2 linked regions of the Homo sapiens genome follow. Each later gene encodes a partner of the first gene's protein in a complex. Each region holds a gene or a part of one and is shown in the gene's direction. Other genes may lie near its edges. The genes, in order: UPF3B and MAGOHB.

What was found.
Region 2: UPF3B (region 1) and MAGOHB share a complex: the UniProt entries of both Homo sapiens proteins name them as parts of the mRNA splicing-dependent exon junction complex.

What each region holds. Positions count from the first base shown.
Region 1 is NC_000023.11:119,840,444-119,850,397, reverse strand, and holds part of UPF3B (regulator of nonsense transcripts 3B), read left to right. Parts: intron 1-5,101; coding exon 5,102-5,200; intron 5,201-7,096; coding exon 7,097-7,207; intron 7,208-8,619; coding exon 8,620-8,663; intron 8,664-9,139; coding exon 9,140-9,322; intron 9,323-9,713; coding exon 9,714-9,752; intron 9,753-9,954. UniProt on the Homo sapiens protein: Involved in nonsense-mediated decay (NMD) of mRNAs containing premature stop codons by associating with the nuclear exon junction complex (EJC) and serving as link between the EJC core and NMD machinery.
Region 2 is NC_000012.12:10,609,116-10,619,533, reverse strand, and holds the start of MAGOHB (protein mago nashi homolog 2), read left to right. Parts: upstream 1-5,924; 5' UTR 5,925-6,001; coding exon 6,002-6,095; intron 6,096-6,555; exon of another isoform or gene 6,556-6,894; intron 6,895-8,853; coding exon 8,854-8,912; intron 8,913-9,592; coding exon 9,593-9,703; intron 9,704-10,150; exon of another isoform or gene 10,151-10,418. UniProt on the Homo sapiens protein: Required for pre-mRNA splicing as component of the spliceosome. Plays a redundant role with MAGOH in the exon junction complex and in the nonsense-mediated decay (NMD) pathway.

The sequences.
Region 1 (9,954 bases):
ATTCTAGTTACTTAGCCTGGAAATCTGAGTTGTGTTTAATTTTTTCCTTTTTTAAAAATCTCTTACATGTAAGTTATGAATCTTGTCAATTTATTGTTTATCTTTTGAGATAGGGTCTCCACCCAGGCTGGAGTGCTGTGGCGCAATCAGAGCTCACTGCAGCCTGGAATTCCTGGACTCAAGCAATCCTCCCACCTCAGCCTCCTGAGTAGCTGGGACTACAGATGTATGTCACCATGCCTGGCTAATTTTCTTTAAATTTTTTATAGAGATGGGGTCTCACTACGTTGCCCAGGCTGGTCTTGAACTCCTGGGCTCAAGTGATTTCCCCCCCCCCACCTCAGCCTCCCAAAGTGCTGGGATTACAGGTGCGAGCCACCATACCCAGCTCAACACCACTTATTAAAGAGACTATCCTTTCCTCATTGTGTTTTTTGTTTGTTTGTTTGTTTTGTTTTGTTTTTAAATCTTAGAGACAAGGTCTGCTTATGTTGCCCAGGCTGGATTTTATTGTTTTTTTTTAATATCTTGTTCACCTAGCCTTAAACAGTCACACTTTATGTCCTCATCACTTAATGCCTAGACAACCACTGTCTCTAAACTTACAGGATTTTCCATTTTTTTCATTCTTGTATAATTCAGTCTATTATATTGCCATGAAATTAATCTTTTTGAAAATAATGATTTAAATTAACAGTTGGGGGAAAAAGTCCAAACTCCTTAGCCTGGTAGTCAGGGTCCTCCATATTCTGGCCTCACTTCTGTTTCTTCAGCCTGTCTTCCACAATTTCCCTCTGTTTCAGTCTGGTTTATCTATTCCTTCTCAAATATATCACAGTTTTGTTTTTTGGTTTTTATTTTTGTTTTTTTTCTTTTTCTTCTCTCTCTCTCTCTTTTTTTTTTTGAGACAGAGTCTTAACTCTGTCGCCCAGGCTGGAGTACAGTGGCACAATCTTGGCTCATTACAACCTCCGCCTCCTGGGTTCAAGCAATTCTCGTTCCTCAGCCTGCCGACTTAGCTGGGATTACAGGTGTGTGCCGCCACGCCCAGCTAATTTTTGTAATTTTAGGAGATGGGGTTTCACCATGTTGGCCAGGCTGGTCTCAAACTCCTGGCCTCAAGCAATCCACCCGCCTCAGCCTCCCAAAGTGCTGGGATTACAGGCGTGAGCCACCATGCCTGGCCTAATATATCACAGTTTTGAAGCTAATCTGATTCTCTACTCACTGGGATTCCCAACATAATTTTTCCTCCATGACTGCTTTGCAGTGCCTTCTGGTCAATTCTGTTTATTTTTATTTTTCTGCTTATGTCTACATGCCAATGATTTAAGGATAGGATACCTTGTTTTTGACATTCTGTGACAGGGTGCTTGTGAATTTTTTTCCCATTAGTCACTTGGGGTTTTTGTATTGAAATATAACTCACCTATAATAAAATTCATCCTCTTAAAGCGTACAATTCAGTGGTTTCTGGTATATTCACAAGGTAGTACAACCATCAGTACTAATTCCAGAATGTTTTCATCCCTCCAAAAAGAAACCCATATCTATTAGTAGTTACCTCCCATTCTCTCCCTCCAGCCCCTGGCAACCACTAATCTACTTTATGTATCTATGATTTCCCTCCATTTCATATAAATGTAATCATACAATATGTGGTCTTTTCTGACTGGCTTCTTTTACCTAGCACAATGTTTTCAAGGTCCATCCATGTTGTAACATATAACATATATCATTACCTCATTCCTTTTGCATTTTTAAAAATTGTAAAAATACACGTAACATAAAATTTACCATCTTAACCATTTTAAGTGTACAGTTCAGTAGCATTAAGGTATATTCACACTGTTGTGCAACAATCTTGGGAACTTTTTCATCTTGAAAAACTGAAACTCTTTACCCATTAAACAACTCCTTATTTCCCTTCCTCCAGCCCCTGGCAACCACCATTATACCTTGTGTCTGTATGAGTTTCACTACTGTAGGTACCACATATAGGTGGAAACATACAGTGTCTGTCTGGCTTATTTCATTTAGCATAATATCTTCAAGGTGTATCCATGTCGTAGCATGTGTCAGAATTTTCATCTTTTTTTTTTTTTTTTTTTTTTTTGAGATGGAGTCTCACTTTGTTGCCCAGGCTGGAATGCAGTGGCGCGATCTCAGCTCACTGCAACCTCCGCTTCCTGGGTTCAAGCAATTCTCCAGCCTCAGCCTCCCAAGTAGCTGGGATTACAGGTACCCACCACCACAGCTGGCTAATTTTTTTGTACTTTTGGTAAAGATGGGGTTTCACTGTGTTGGCCAGGCTAGTTTCAAACTCCTGACCTGAAGTGACATGCCTGCCTCAGCCTCCCAAAATGCTAGGAATTACAGGCATGAGCCACTGCCCCCAGCCTCATTTTTAAGACTAATATTCCAGTATATGTATATACCACATTTTGTGTATCCATTCATCTGTCAAGGGGTATTCGAGTTGCTTCCACTCTTGGCTATTGTGAACAATATTGTTATGAACACAGATGTGCACATATTCGAGTCCTTGTTCTCACTGCTTTTGGATATATACCGAGAAATGGAATTTCTGGAGTCATTTGGTAATTCTATTTTTATTTTATTATTTATTTATTTTGAGACAGAGTCTCTGTCACACAGGCTGGAGTGCAGTGGCATGATCTTGGCTCACTGCAACCTCCACCTCCCAGGTGCAAGCAATTCTCCTGCCTCAGCCTCCCAAGTATCTGGGATTACAGACACCTGCCACCACACCCTGCTAATTTTTTATGTTTGTGGTAGAGACGGAGTTTCACCATGTTGGCCAGGCTGGTCTCAAACTCCTGACCTCAAGTGATGCGCCCACCTCGGCCTCTCAAAGTGCTGAGGTTACAGGTGTGAGCCACTGTGCCCCGCCGGTAGTTCTTTTTTGTTTTGTTTTGTTTTTTTGAGATGGAATTTCGCCCTCATTGCCCAGGCTGGAGTAAGTACAATGGCGCGATCTTCCCTCATTGCAACCTCCACCTCCTGGGTTCAAGCAATTCTCCTGCCTCAGCCTCCTGAGTAGCTGGGATTACAGGTGCCCACCACCACACCCAGCTAATTTTTGTATTTTTAGTAGAGATGGGGTTTTACCATGTTAGTCAGGCTGGCCCAATAATTCTATTTTTAATGTTTTATGGAACTGCCATACTGTTTTCCATGCAGCTGCATCATTTTACATTCCCACCAATACATGAGTGTTCCAGTTTCTCCACATCTTTGCCAACACTTGTTATTTTCTGCTTTTTGATAGTAGTCCTCCTAATAGGCGTGAGATGATACCTCATTGTGGTTTTGATTTGCATTTCCCTAATGACTAGTAATGTGGAACATATTTCCATATGCTTGTTAGCCATTTGTATATTATCTTTGAAGAAATGTCTATTCAAGTCTTTTGACCATTTTTTAAATTGGGTTATTTGGTTTTTTGTTGTTGAGTTATAGGAGTTCTTTATATATTCTCGATATTACCCCTTATCAGATAATATAATTTGCAAATATTTCTCCCATTCCATGGGTTGCCTTTTCACTCTGTTGATTGTGTCTTTTGATGCATAGAAGTTTCTAATTTTGACGTAGTCCAATTTATCTATTTTTTACTTTTTTTAAATAAGAGATATACTTTATATTTTTGTTTTATTGTGGTAAGAACACTTAACATGAGATCTACCCTCTGTATTTTTACTTTTGTTGCCTGTGCTTTTGGTGTCCTGGTGTATTTTTTTTTAAGTGTTAACAGATTTTTCCCCAGCTTTATTGAGCTATAATTGACAAATAAAATAATATATATTTAAATTTTACTATGTAATAATTGTTTTTTCTTTTTTCTTTTTCTTTTTTTTTTTTTTTTTTTACCAGGCTCGAGTGCAGTGGCACAATCTCAGCTTACTGCAACCTCCGCCTCCCAGGTTCAAGTGATTCTCCTGCCTCAGTCTCCCAAGTAGCTGGGATTACAGGCGTGCACTATCACGCCTGGCTAATTTTTGTATTTTTATTTATTTTTATTTTTATGTATTTATTTTTTTGAGACGGAGTCTTACTCTGTCGCCCAGGCTGGAGTGCAGTGGCATGATCTCGGCTCACTGCAATCTCTGCCTCCTGGGTTCAAGTGATTCTCATGCCTCAGCCTCCAGAGTAGCTGGGATTGCAGGCACGTGCCACCACGCCCAGCTAATTTTTGTATTTTTAGTAGAGACAGTGTTTCACCATGTTGGCCAGGCAGGTCTCAAACTTCTGACCTCAGGTGATCCTCTCATCTCGGCCTCCCAAAATGCTGGGATTATAGGCATAAGCCACGGTGCCCAGCCCAACGTGATAATTTTATATATGTATACATTATGAAATGTATACATTATGAAATGTATACATATTGTATACATATATACATTATGAAATGTATACATAATGTATACATATATACATTATGAAATATATACAATCAAGTTAACACATTCATCACCTCACATAACACATCACCTCAAATAGTTACACTTTTAAAAAATAACAGCTTTATTGAGATATAATTCACATGCCTGAAATAGTCACCCTTTTAAAGTATACAGTTCAGTGAATTTTAGTATATTCATAGGCTTATGAGCCTATCACCACAATCTAAATTTAGAACATGTTCATCACCCCTAAGAGAAACCCCACCCATTAGTTGTCACTCCTCATTCTTCTCACCACTTCTACCCCAAACTCCAGGCAGCTACTACTCTACGTTCTGTCTCTATAGATTTGCCTATTTTGGAGATTTCTAACATTTTAAAATGAAAAATAGTTTGTAGGGTCTTTTTCACATTAAAATATCACATTTTATAAGTTGAATTTATATGAATATTTTACTTTCATGCCGTGTTGTTTCACTATGTTATCAGTGTGAATTTGTGGCTCCTTTTGTAGTATGTTGATTATGGTTGTGCCAGTGTGCTTTATGCCTTTGGGAGACCCTCTTCAGATGACTGCCATCAAAAGAGTCATAGAAAGCAATGGGTTGATTCCCTTATATCCACTTTTGACATTTTCTTTGTTATAGCAAGTGTGGTATTTTTTTTCTAAACAGGTCAGGAATATCCCGCTATAGTAGAATTTGCACCTTTTCAAAAAGCTGCAAAAAAGAAGACTAAGAAAAGAGATACCAAAGTCGGGACTATCGATGATGGTACAGTATAGCTCTAATTATATAATGCTATTGCTGTGGGGTTTTTAAAAATAATATCTTTGTGAGAGTTAATTCGACCCCAAAATTTTAAATTAGAAAATATACAAAATAAAGTAAGTGAGAAATGTTATTTGCCGATGGAAGCTTTGCTTAATTGTTAGACTAGAGAGAGTTTCTTGCACAGAATCTCTGCTCTCTTTGGCTAGGGCATTTCATTCTTCAACCATTGAACAATATAATGTTGACTATTGAGTAACAAATCACCATAGGTTTATTGATTAGAAGATAGTGGAAAGGCCAGGCGTGGTGGCTCACGCCTATAATCCCAGTACTTTGGGAGGCCAAGGCGGGCGGATCATCTGAGGTCAGGAGTTTGATACCAGCCTGACCAACATGGAGAAACCCTGTCTCTACTAAAAATATAAAATTAGCCGGGTATGGTGGTGCATGCCTGTAATCCCAGCTATTCGGGAGGCTGAGGCAGGAGAATCTCTTGAACCCAGGAGGCGGAGGTTGCAGTGAGCTGAGATCACACCATTGCACTCCAGCCTGGGCAACAAGAGCGAAACTCCATCTCAAAAAAAAAAGAAAAAGAAAATAGTGGAAAAAAATCAGGTTTCAAAGTTTAACAGGTGCTTCTTGAGGCCTCACCATTTTTATGATTATTTATTTGACTTTTGGTTTCCATTATATTTATAAAGAAGAAGGTTTGAACTGTCATGGGAAAATTTCCATACCCAGGTAACTTTGTATAAAGTAGCTGAAGTTGTCACTCCTATTTTCTGGTCTTTGGATATACAATTAGCTACACACATAGTATTAGGTTGAACAGGAATAGAAGAACTGAGGCCAGGCGCGGTGGCTCACTCCTATAATCCCAGCACTTTGGGAGGCCAAGGCGGGCAGAGTTGCTGAGGTCAGGAGTTCGAGACCAGCCTGGCCAACATGGTGACACCCCATCTCTACTAAAAACACAAAAATTAGCTAGGCATGGTGGCGGGCACCTGTAATCCCAGCTGCTTGGGAAGCTGAGGCAGAAGAATCACTTGAACCCGGGAGGCGGAGGTTGCAGTGAGCTGAGACCGCACCATTGCACTCCAGCCTGGACAACAAAAGCAAAACTCCGTCTCAAAAAAAAAGAAAGAAAGAAAGAAATACAAGAACTGAAAAACCAAAATAATTGCCATTTAAGGTACACTGGCTCCAGATTTTGAGACCTCTGTAATGTTATGTTAGATAGCTGTTACACAACTCTTTATGTTGGATAAGGACTAGGACCATATTTTATATCAGATTGTTACTTTAGAATCATCTAGTTTAATTTCCATCATTTGTTACTATTACAGGTATTTTATAAAGAAAACACGGTAAGGACTCAATAACACATAGCTGTGATACTGGTTTTATTACAGATTTAGATCTGGAAGACTTGATCAAGTGACACATAGAAACAAGCAATATAATGGCTTAGATGTGTCACCCTTTCTGATGTTAGAGGTCTAGGAGAGAACTCCAGGAATTCCCATCACCTCAAGTGCCACATCTAGGACTTCTCTCTAATTTATCTTTTTGGAACACCTAACTTAGTTTAGTAGGACAGTGACTTTTAAAAGCAAACTATGTAATACCCCTAGTGGTTCTGTTATAATGCATGGCGTCTCATTTTTCCTGACCCCATGTTATACCAGATTCCTATAGTGAGTATCAGTGATAGGAGTCCTGAGAGCAAGTGACCAATTAAGCTCTAAATAGTCTACCTTGTGGGTATGGTTTGGTTTTTTTTAATCTTCCACGAAGTAAAAAATTATCTTCTTTGATAAATCAGTATTGTAGATAATGTCTTCTTTTTTTGTTTAAAGTCTATTATATTTTCTGTTTCCTCAAATGATTATTTAGATCCAGAATATAGAAAGTTTTTGGAAAGTTATGCCACAGATAATGAGAAAATGACATCTACTCCAGAGACACTGCTAGAGGAAATAGAAGCAAAAAATAGAGAATTAATAGGTAAGTGGGCAAAAAGAATCAGGGCAACAGTCTTTTCATCACAGTACCTAAGTCTCCTACCTCCATCAGTTGCTAGCTGTGTGACTTCAGGGAAGTTACTAGTTTCTCTGAGACTGTTACTGTAAATTGCAGATGGTAATACCTGCCTCACAGCATTATGAGAATCCATTAAAGTGGGAAAAATTCTTTGACCTATTTAGTTTCACACAAATGTAATATAAATACAAAAAGTTCGATGACTGATAAGGAATGTTTAGACAGTGGTAAGCCTTTGAAGGTCAATTGGTATTTTCTAGTAATAAGTTCATATTCCTAAAAAAATTTTGACTTGAAAATACGAAAAAATGAAATTAGTTACTGCAAAATTGAAAACTACTTGAGGAATTCTAGCTTGGATCTTGGTTCTCAGTAATAGGCTGTCACTACTGTATCAGTAGCTCTAAACATGAGCATAATCTTTGACCCAGGATTTCTACTCAGGAATTTATCCTAAGGAATATGTGGGGTTTTTTTGTTTGTTTGTTTGTTTTTTTTGCTTGCTTGCTCGCTCGCTCTCTCTCTGTGTGTGTGTGTGTGTGTGTGTGTATGTGTGTGTGTGTGTGTGTGTGTGAGAGATGGAGTCTTGCTCTGTCGCCCAGGCTGGAGTGCAGTGTCGCAATCTCGGCTCACTGCAACTTCCGCCTCCTGGGTTCAGGCGATTCTGCCGCAGTCTCCCGAGTAGCTGGAAGTACAGGTGTCCGCCACCACGCCCGGCCAATTTTGTATTTTTAGTAGAGCCGGGGTTTCACCATGTTGGCCAGGCTGATCTCGAACTCCTGACCTCAAGTGATCCGCCTGCCTTGGCCTCTGAAAGTGCTGGGATTACAGGCATGAGCCACTGTGCCCGGCCAGGAATATGTGTTTTAAGATGGCTGTAAGGCCAATAGCTTATTCAGAATGTTGAAAATGAAAAATATTCTTCCAAAACTTGACTTTTATTAATAGATGGATAGTACAAGCCTATTTCTGGTAACTTTCTTAGAATAAATTCCCAGAAGTGGAATTATGGGGTCAAAAGGATTAGATATTTTTAGCCCCTTCCCCCCAACTTCTTCCAGTTGAACAAGTTTACACTCCTATCAGTAAAACAAGAGAATGTCCTAAGTACTTAATTCTCATCAGTTGGGAATGACTCTTTTAATAAATTATTTTGTTGTTTTAATTTGAATTTCTTTACTTTTTAAAAGGTATTTTAATCCCGTATTGTTGAAATCGAATGCTGTAAAACTTCTTTCTGATATTACAATTGTGATCTTTCTGCATAAGGGGTGTACATGTTTTCCCACCTTGGGTGGTTGGCAGGGAATGTCAGAAAATGGAATCGTTTCTAGGGGTTGATAAGTATGATTAATAATCTGTTTACATTTATGTAGCTAAAAAGACAACCCCACTTTTGAGCTTCCTGAAAAACAAGCAGGTAAATCTTTTGTCTTTATAGTTCTCTCAATACTTTAATTTCTTTGCTTTGCATTCTATAAACATTTTAAGAGCATTGGGTTTCTAGAGGAGAAATAGCTGCTTTTTCCACCATTACTCTTTAAGGATTTGCCTTCTTGGTCTCACTCTCTAGCCTGCTCCTTCACTCTGGTTGTTGGACCAGGAGTTCACTCTACAAACGTGGAATGTTCTTAGGTTGTCCCAGAGACACTCATTTGATATTCTGAAAGCCTCTGGAGAGATAGTAAGGCAGCAGTGGAAGAATAATATTAGCAGGTTCTGGTCTTCATTGTCTTTCGTTTTCTGGGTGGAGTGGGGATAACGGTGGTAGAATGCCACTTTGTAGAAAGTAGGAAGGAAAGATTATTCAGTTGGGGCCTACCATGACTTCAGGATTTATTAGGGTTTTGGTGATGATTATTTTATTTGAAGGCTTGTGTTGATGTTTCTTTCTAGAGAATGAGAGAAGAAAAGAGAGAAGAAAGGAGGAGGAGAGAAATAGAAAGAAAAAGACAAAGAGAAGAAGAGAGGAGGAAATGGAAAGAAGAAGAGAAACGAAAAAGGAAAGATATAGAAAAGCTAAAGAAGATAGACAGAATTCCAGAAAGGGACAAATTAAAGGATGAACCAAAGATTAAGGTATAAGAATGTTGAAACTGACTGCATGTTGCTAAAAATTGCACGTATCTACTTCTTTAAATATGCATGCGTCTTGTGTTGGTGTAAATGAATTTTTTGTTTTGTTTTTGTTCTCTTTTGGGGGGAAGTGATCCAATAAAAATCTTTCCTGTAATAGTATTAGTTTTTAAATTTAAGATCATTTAAAAGGATAAAGTAGTATGTTATTTCTTCAGTGCAGATCTGTGCTGTTTTTGTCATTGAAAATGTTGGATTTTTAGACTATTGTCCTCTAAATTCATAGTAAATGAGGGCTTAGGGCTGGCTGGCATGATTTATGGTTTTTTTTCAGCTTTTTCTTCATAATTGATACATGAAGTTACCTCATCTGTTTGTTTTCCACTGTCTTCAGGTACACAGGTTTCTGTTACAAGCTGTGAATCAGAAAAATGTAAGGACCAAGTACATGATACAGAGCATCTAGTATCATGTCACACACACAGGTCTTAGCTAATAAGTCCTTTTGGTGGTGGTGGTGGTAGTGTTACTTGTTGAAAACCCCTTCAGGTTGACTTGAGTCTTCTTAAAAGCTGAGCTATTTTATTATAAATTTCTACTTTAAAAGGAAGCCCAGGTGACTTCCTGATGCTCTG
Region 2 (10,418 bases), on another chromosome or scaffold:
ACAGGTAAATTCTGTTTGTTACTACGTTTAATTAGAAGGTGGAGGAGTCATTTCATGATTAAGAACATTCAACATGTATTGTTCATTAAGCTAGCTTCCTAGTTCCGATTAGACTAAGGAGACTAAGCCTAGAGAGTCAATGTTAGAACAGTGAAAAGAATTCTGTGTGTGTGTGTGTGTGTGTGCACAATAAATAGGAAATGTAGAAACCAAGCAAGAAGGCTTAGTAGCTCAGTCTTTAACAAGGGCTAGAAAAGAATGTAATCTGATATGGAAGGATAGCAGCTTCTAATTTTCAATCATCTGTTGATATACTGTGAAACTTATTTTATTAAATTAATATTTATTAAATGGAAATATGCTTTTCTGGTTTATAACTACTAAAAATATCATAGGGAGGATAAAAGTAAATAAGTGAAAGTTAATGCCAATAGAAAAATTCAAGAGATAATGTACAATGTCAGAAAAGGGATTCTTTATGTGTAAATGGGGATAATACCTATTTCACAAGGTTGTTCTGAGGATTGATACGTTTTGAGTATGTATTTGTACACTATCTGGCACATATGCGCTCAATAAACGTGTTTCTCCTTTTCTTTTGCCCTTCCTAACCCAGGACCTTTCATATATTTTTCATTTAAAATCTACTGTGACCAAGAAGAGAAACTCAGTCGCTAACACTGCAAGGCAGGACATGCCTAAAGATGATGATATGGCACAAGTAGTGATATTATACATGTGCAATGATGAAGTCATCATTTTTGTACGCTTTTGGATGATGATAGTGGACTCCTACTATTACAAAATATTGAAAACATCATCATGAGGGCAATTCTGTTGAACATGGTAGTCTGCAATTTTAAAAAACACTTTGGGTACCCTGGAAGGGACATCTAAGGCTGCCATAAGAAAAATGACTGGCAGCTAAAAATGTTGTAGAAGTTGGAATCCTGATGGAATCATAATGAGTCAGCTAAAGGAATAATGATTCTTGCCGCTGTAAGAATACCACAATGACTAGTCAGGATTTAAATGGGTAGCAAGTTGCAGTAGGGAGAAGGGCAGAAGAGTGGCTTCACACAAAATTACAAAGTCCTATGGAATCCCATTGTTGCCTCTCAGCTGTTCAGTTAAGTCAAAATTACAAATATTTACTTATTTATCTGATCACTGAAAAATATTGAGTGTTAAGGCTTGCTGTGCCAGACACTTGGCTAGGTGTAGGATAAAAGAAATAGGGAGCTTTTGATTACAGTCTAGAAGGTGAGACACATTATACATTTATTTGTGTGGGTATCTGTTAAGTGCGAAGTGTTAAGTGCTATAAAGAAAAAGCATAGGGTAGTAGAAGGGAGTTTAAAAGGAACACTTCCCTGAACAGAAATGGGCTATAAACTGAGACCTTAGGGATGGGTAAGTAACCCAGGCCGAATAAGAAGAGTCTCCCAGGAGGAGGACATGTGTGCGTGAAAATTCTGAGGCAAGGAACTGCAAGAAAGCATATGGGTTGCAGCACGGTGAGCTAAGGGAAAGTGGAACACAGTGAAATGGAAGGTTGCTTTGTTGTACTGTCATATTTCTTTTAGTAGGAGGGAAAGAAGCAGACAATTGATATTTAAGTTTTTTACCCCCAATTTTATTTGTTTTTCCGGCCCGGAAAACTGGATACAGTAATTTTTACTCTAAGAAAACTGGGTCTTTCTCTCACTTGGCCAGGCTTCTTCCAGAAGGAGGATGATATTTCTGGCATCATTGACCTTTCAGCCAAACTAGGTGTTTCCAAGCTAATGAATGAAAAAAAGAATCAAAATATTTATCATTTAATCGGGTTGACTCTAGATAGATTTTGTTGTATTGTTTTGATTGCCTTCTCTTCCAGTCTTGTTTTTCCAATCTATGCTTTATTGTTAAAAAAAAATTCCAACACTTAGGAACAACGCAAACACCCACCTAGATACAGTGTCTAAGGGAAACTTGGTAACGTCGTTTAAAATAGAATAGTCTGAACCAGTAGTTCTTAAATTATGCTTATGGAGCACACTATGTTTTTTTATGCCAGATTTAGGTATTCTGTTATTAAAATCAAATAATAGTAGTGGGTTTTTTTTTAGCATTTTAAAACAAAAAAAGTCAGTTAATTAAGATTTCTTAATCTTAACTCTGTTGCAATAATTTTTTTAAATTTTGCTTTAACACTCTTACTGAAATAAATAAGTAGCAAATACAGTGGAAGACTGGAAGATATCCTATTACCCTTAATTTAGCATACTGTGTTTACCCGTTTTGGGGAAAAGAGTTAGAGATTATGCTATGTGTTTGAAGCATATAATATTGTCATTTGCTGGAAAAAAATTTTAGATTGAACAATCGAATTAAATATATCATGTCATGGTAATCTAGAAGTAGCTCCAAGTTCTCGCCATATATGAACATATGTGATAACGAATGGTGTGGAAAGTTTGGTGTTTCTGCATGATCATGATTCTCTTACTTAAAAAGTTAATACCACTAAGTGGTAAAAAGACAGATAAGGCTAACGTCCACAGGGAAGTCTATTATGGAAAAGAGAAGAGCAAGGTGGGTGGATGAATTAAAAATTAAAATACTACCTCATTCTGAGTATTTTTTAAAATTTAAACCACATTATGCACTTATTCTTGACTTACTACTCTGATCCATTTATTAATAACTGAATGAGATAGCCCTGACATCTTTTCTTCTGTAAATACAAAATCAAATGAATCAGACGTTATTCATAAATTAAAAACATGAGACTATAATACCTAGTGCTTATCACAATAAACATGGAACATGTTTCTGAAAATTGGAAGTCAGAATGATTTGATCATTAAGCCCTAATTTCAGATGGAAATAAAACGTTTATTTCTTACCTACTTCACTTTGTGCTTTGAAATTTACCGCTGTGTTAGCAAAGGTGGAAACAGTATTTTGGCTTCACTTAAGCAGCTCAAATATTTATTTTCATAAGTAAACTGTGTTGATATCAGTAAGTACGTCCTAATTTGGAGCCTACAACAAGCAATTTGAAAATGTTCACAATTTTTTTTTTGCTATTTCTAGCCCAACTAAAAGTGTATGAAAAGATTCTAACTGTGCTGACCAACACAGTAGCTTCTAGCCACATGTGTTTATTTAAATGTTAATCTAAATTAATCACAATTAAGAATTCAGTTCGAAGTCACAGTAGTCACATTTCAAGGGCTCAGCAGCCATACAGAAGAACATTTCCACATCACTGTTGTGTACCATCCAAGAATACAACACAACGCAAATGCTTTATCACTTTGTAATTCTTGCTTCAATACAAAAGGTTCAAATTTTGGCTTAAAATATAGAGAGTTAAGTAAATATAGTTTCATATTTTATCTTACAAACAGGTAGGATTATAGTCTTGAACCCCTATGTCATTTTTGGAGATCAAGACAGTAACTGGCCCACTTAACAAAGATGTTAATACTTTGTGCATTCTGTAACCTCTATTTATATAGTTACACATTCTGGTATCCATAGTTCTATTTAGGTAAACATGAAGATGAACATTGGCACATGTGCCAAAAACCTGAAGGAGAGACATTAGGGAATCTAAGATATTGAATGAGGCTTTCCATATAATTCAACAAAATGGATTACAGCTGATATTTCCAGAGATACTACGGAATAGAGTGTTCAAATTTCTGTGAATTATTCTTGTGGTAAGTGTGGTGACCAACCCATCTCAGTTTGCCTGGGTGTTTCCAGGTATGGAAAGTCCCATTTCCCAGGAAACTCCACAGTCCTGGTCAAACTGGAACGGCTAGTCACCCTAGTGGTAAAACATGGTGCTTCCTGTTTCTTACGTACTTTCCAAAATGGTGGCCCATTGTAGGGACTGATTCATTTTTCTATATTAATAGTTATATAACTACTAATATGGACTCAAGGAAACGTGGCCCAATTTGCCTTTTTAGTCATTCTACTTGAACCTTATGCTCTAGCTATACCGAATTTCTTAGTGTTCCCCAAACATGAATTTTCACACCACTGTCTTTGCTCGGGTCATTTTCTGCCTGGAATGCTTTTTCATCCCACTGAACATACACAGAACTTACTTCTCAAGGTCCAATTCAAACACTTCCGTTGACAAGCCTTTTCCAATACTCTTTTTTCAAATTTCCCTACTCTGCAATAGAATGCTCTTGCTTCCTCTGCTGTACTACCGGCATGTTTTACACACTTTTTTTTTTTTAGACGAAGTTTCGCTCTTGTCACCCAGGCTGGAGTGCAACTGCGCGATCTCCGCCTCTCGGGTTCAAGCGATTCTCCTGCCTCAGCCTCCTGAGTAGCTAGGATTACAGGCACGTGCCACCAAACCTGGCTAATTTTTGTATTTTTAGTAAAGACAAGGTTTTGCCATGTTGGCCAGGCTGGTCTTGAACTCCTGACCTCGGGTGATTTGCCCCCTTTGGCCTCCCAAAGTGCTGGGATTACAGGCATGAGCCACTGCGCCCGGCCACATATAGGCTTTCTTTTCTTTTTCTTTTTTTTTTTTTTTTTTTTTTGAGACAGAGTTTCGCTCTTGTTGCCCAGGCTGGAATGCAGTGGCACGATCTCAGCTCACTGAAACCTCTGCCTCCAGGGTTCAAGCAATTCTCCTGCCTCAGCCTCCCGCGTATCTGGTATTACAGGCACGCGCCACCACGCCCAGCTAATTTTTTTGTATTTTTAATAGAGACGGGGTTTCACCATGCTGGCCAGGATGGCACATATATTCTTAATTATAGCAATTGCTCCCTTGTGCTGGTATTCGCCTTACGTGTTTGCTTTCTTTTCTAGACTACCAGATCAAATGGCTTATTTCTAGTTTCAAACTGTCACATAGGAAATGTTTGTTAAAACTAATGTTTTATAAAATTTAAAGCTTATTTTACATATTATCTCATTAGATCTCTCAAGAATTCTGTGAGCTTGGCAATGTAGATTGCTGTATATGCATTAGGCTGATGAACAAACAGGCTTAGAGATAGTCACTTGCCCGAGGTTAGTTAGCTGTTAAGTGTTGGGATTGAATCCCAGGTCTTCTCTCCACCACTTTCTACTAAAAATCACTGAAGGTTGTCAACCGACAGATAGGATTACTCTGTGTGTTGATAACAAAAGGGTGATCAATAATATCTGAAAAGGAAACTTTGTGTAAAAGTCTTTCCCTTACCTTAAAAACTACGCCACACTGGAGCATTCTTTCATTCCCCCAATTTAATTCTATCTGGCGAGAAACAATAATGGGCTAAACCATTATTGTATCGTAAGTCAAATTGCCAAAACTTCACAGGCTACTAAAAGTTAACCCTTATTGAATGAATTAAGAACCTTAGAAGTTCTGCTGTTAAAAAAAGCACGGTGACTGTCAGGGTTTTTCAGGTGTGGGGGGTGTGAGGGTTTTAAGAGTTGGATTCCTTTGACTTTGTCTCTATTATTATAGGCTTAGAGGTCCCGGGTAACTACCAATCGCTATCCAAAGGGAAAGCACCCTGTTAGAAATTAAGTAAGAAAAATAGTTTATATTCCCGGTCTGCCATTTCGATTCTAAGCTTTATCTTTATTTAGCTCACAGTTAAAGGGGGCATAGAGCCACACCCACCTCACAAACGCCGCAAGGATTGGGAGACCAGAAAAGTAAAAGTGACTTGCAAACCTTTAGCTCTAAGTCCATAAAAAAGACTATCATATGCTCACATTTCTAATCTTTGCTAGTATAATGTAATCTTTATTTTGAAAACAATGTGCCTCCATTCCTAGTAAAGCGAAAGTCACGGCGCTGCGACCCTCCCTTCAGCGCCTCCGGACTCTCACGCGATACTCGGCTTTCACGCTTTAGTCTAGGGCTGCACTGCAGGAGGAAGAGAAGCGCCTGTGGTGACGCACTTATTCCGCGCGATGACGTCACTGCAAGGCGCCGGGGGACACGTTGGCTGCGTTTTCGGCGGGCTTCCCGGGTACAAAAATGGCTGTGGCTAGCGATTTCTACCTGCGCTACTACGTAGGGCACAAGGGCAAGTTTGGGCACGAGTTTCTGGAGTTCGAATTTCGGCCGGACGGTGAGAAGAGGCCCACGGCACGCGGTGCTGGGAAAGGGGAGCGAGACCGAGAGGCCGGGTGGTGTGGAGGGTACAGGCGGCGGAGGCCACTGCTTCCCTCGAAGGAAATAGGAGCTTAAGAATAGAGGAGGCATAAGTTGGTTTTATAAATGAAAGAGAATTAATTGCAATAAATTAAAGCTAATCCTGTCACAAACTGAAAAGTTGAACCTACAGTAATCAGAATTCTGTAACAGTGCACCAGAAGGGACTCTAGATCGTCGCCCTGATTGAAAATGCTAGCACTTTTTTGAAAACACCCCCACCAGCGGGTGGTCCAGTGGATGAATAAAATCTTGTGGTGACCAGTACCTTTTTTTCATTTAGGCTGTGTGTTTTCTTTGAAGGGGAGGAGCCCAACGTGTTAACAAATGAGAATAATAATATGTTTTAGGTGTTTACGTGTAATTGTTCACCATAGGACGCATGAAGAGTACCAAGCAAGAGGGGAGAGGTAAAGTTCCACAGGAGGGAGTCAGGAAGATCTTCTTAGAGGACGGCACTCTTGAGATGAGTCTCGAAATGAGAGACTTGGCCTTTGAGAGAAAAAAACAGACTTCCAGAGCAGTATGAGCAGAGGATGAGGTGAAACTGCTACCCAAGTAGTGTGCAACAGTGTGTTTTCTGACAGCGCTATCCTTAGAGAATGTTACATTGATCTTGCCTACCTGCAACAAGAAAGTTCATTTGGATATATATTTTTTGGGTTTTTTTGAATGCACGTTTTGTGCTGGACAACAAGCAAATACAAAATTTTAAGGTACAGTAATGAGTAAGACAAATTTAACTAAAGCAGATTTGTCTTGGTGGGAGGCACAGACATTTAACTATAAAGCAGTATGCATATTAAGTCCTATAAGCAGGCTTTGGACAATGTTCTGTGAGAGCAAGAATAAAAAATTAGAGAAGGAACGTATATTAGGAAAGGAGAAGAGTATCAAGCATTTCAGGCAGAACTCACGTTAACTACAGTCCTGCAATTATTATTATTATTATTATTTTGAAACAAGGTCTCACTCTGTCACCCAGATCTGAGTGCAGTGGCACGATCTCAGCTCACTGCAACCTCCCCCTCCCTAGTGCAAGTGATCCCTCACCTCAGCCTGCCGAGGTGCTGGGAATACAGGCCCACGCCACCTCACCCAGCTAATTATGTTATGTTATGTTATGTTATGTTATGTTATGTTATGTTATGTTATGTTATGTTATTTTTTGTAGAGATGGGTTTCCCCATGTTGCCCAGGCTGGCTTCAAACCCCTGAGGTCAAGGGATCCACCAGCGTCAGCCACCCACAGTCCTGGGATTACAAGCATGAGCCACCGGGCCAGCCCTGCAATTATTTAGAAACCTTAATCACTGTATTTAACCTTACCGTCCCCATAAATTCAGCTAAATTTACCTGAATTCATCTATTCTTTATGTAGTATTATTTTCAGTTCCTCTGCCTGCGAACACCATCAAGCTTGTCCCTATCACTTTTAGCAGGTCACATGAATTAAGTACCTGAATATTATCAGGGAAGTTTTATGCTAGAACAGTGGTTCTAATCAATGTATCTGCCACTACACTGTTACACATACTTCCATTGGTGATATTGAGCCTCCCGAAGACGCGTTTCTTTTCTTTTTTTTTTTTTTTTTTTTTTTTTTTTGAGACAGAGTCTTGCTCTGTCGTCCAGGCTGCAGTGCAGTGGTGCGATCTCGGCTCACTGCAACCTCCGCCTCGTGGATTGAAGCGATTCTCCTGCCTCATCCTCCCGAGTAGCTGGGATTGCAGGCATGGGCCACCATGCCTGGCTATTTTTTCGTATTTTTAGTAGAGACGGGGTTTCTCCATGTTGGCCAGGCTGGTCTCTAACTGCTGACCTCAGGTGATCCACCCATCTCAGCCTCCCAAATTGCTGGGATTACAGGCATGAGCCACTGTGCCTGGTGCCAAGCCATCAAAGACTGTCATTTCTATCATTTTAGAGTACCTGTTGCACATTATAGCTGTGTCTGGGCAACTGACTAGCCATAAGGGGAAGCATACATCAGATAATACAGCAATCATGATGGATTAAAATTAAATATAAACTAGCTAACAAACTCATCAACTTTGATCCAGAAGCATCGTTTGTATGCTTCCTAGTCATAATTCTAAAATGTCTGCATTATAATTGCATGCATACATTTGAAGGAAAAAAATTTTTAAAAGAGAACATTTTGGTGTAGTGGGGAAAGCCTGAGTATTGAAAGAAAGTAGATCTAGATCTGAATCTTGTGTGACCCTGGTTAAGTTACTTAACTTTGTTTTCTCTCCTATGAATAGGTGAGAGAATAAAACCCGATTTTTGGGATTGTTTTACAGATTAGATTAAATGCTCTGGGTGAGGCACTTAGCACCGATACAGACATATAACAAACTTTAAAGGAATCTTAGTGCCTTTTGCAGATTCTCTTTCTAGTTCATGATGTAGCTTAAGAAAATAGGCCTTAAAAATGACCCAATATATATTGTAGGCATGGGCTGTTTAAATATTTGGCTAGCTTCAACTTCAGCAAACTTAACCAGCAAACATTTATTGTCTACATGTCTAGCAATGATCTTACACAAGGAGGGAGGAAATATTAATAAAAATAGTAGTATAAAATGGTCTTTACCTTCAAAATTGTATATGATGTTAATTTTTTTAGCAGTTTTTGCTATTATAAATTGATTTTTTTCCACTTCCCACAGGAAAGCTTAGATATGCCAACAACAGCAATTACAAAAATGATGTCATGATCAGAAAAGAGGTAAGTTCTATGTGAATGTCTTTTTTTTTTTTTTTTTTTTTTTTGCATTTAGCCCATTTTCTTCAAGTCTGTGTTGAATTTAAAAAAGTACATCTAAGGCTATATTGTAAAGAAGAAGGCAATTTATAGATTGAAAGAGTTTCCATTTAAATTAGATACAGTGTTTGCATCCATAGGAATGAGAAAGTTCAGAGAACTAACCTTGACGTGAACTACACTTGCATTTATTGATTTATTGATTTAGGGACAGAGTCTCGCTCTGTTACCCAAGCTGGAGTGCAGTGGCTTGATCTCAGCTCACTGCAACCTCTGCCTCCCAGGCTCAAGCGATTCTCCTGCCTCAGTATACTTGCATTTATTACAGTTCACCTTATAGATCTTGTGATGACACAAGTTAACCACTTGTGGGTATTTGGATCTCAGTGTTGCAAAGGCAGAATACAGTGTTTGAAAGACAGGTAATGATGAGAAGAGGGAAAAAATGTATGTGAAAGGAAAGGGCAAGAGATGAAGAAAAGCAGTGTAACAAGGATAAGTGATTCTGTCTCCTCTACTTTTGGAATCAATTAAATTTTTCTATATTCCTCTATTTGGATATTCAGGGTTTGTAACTCATTTCTTTCTGAGTTGAGGGGTGACATAGGTGGGCATTATCTCATTTTATTATGATTAATTTTTAGGCTTATGTGCACAAGAGTGTAATGGAAGAACTGAAGAGAATTATTGATGACAGTGAAATTACAAAAGAAGATGATGCTTTGTGGCCTCCCCCTGATAGGGTTGGCCGACAGGTTTGTATTTAGTGATTCTTTAAGTGTATAAATATTAAAAATTGATAATACTATTTTGTTTCCCGTTATTTATTTGGAATGAGTCTAAGTTGATTCTTTGGCTTTCTATTTAATAGGCACCTGGTAAATTCTCTTTAATTTTATCTCTTAGTTCTGTTTTTCTGTGCTACCTCCTAGTAGTGAAGGAGTCAGTGCATAGCTCTAAATTTAGACATCTTTCTCTGTAGTCACCCCAGCCAACGTTAGGATGTTTTCACAATGCAGTGTTATGAATAATTTCTGTTGTGTGTTAATCACTTTTATTAAGAATATGACTATGTAAAATTTATTTTTGCCAAATCATAACTTCTAAAATTCTTACTTGCATCCCTATACCCCAGAGAGAAACTTGATTGGTGGTTTCTTTGTTAAAACTGATGATTGCATTTCCCTCTCATATTCCTTCAGAATAAATGATGTTTCTCAGGCTTCTGAAGAACTCTGAAGGCCTAATTTCACTCTGTAAAAAGAAAGTTTGGTTTCTGAATTGGGTCTTTTCAACTCTTGGAGAAATTCCTTCAACAACCCCTGGAAGGAAGAAACATTTAATTTCACTTTTGTATATCCCTGAGGATTGTACTTTGTATCACCTTCTTTGAATAGAAGAAAATGTGGAGAAATCTAACACATGCTGACACTCTGTAGGAGTAACTTAAGTCTTCTGCTTAAAGAAGCA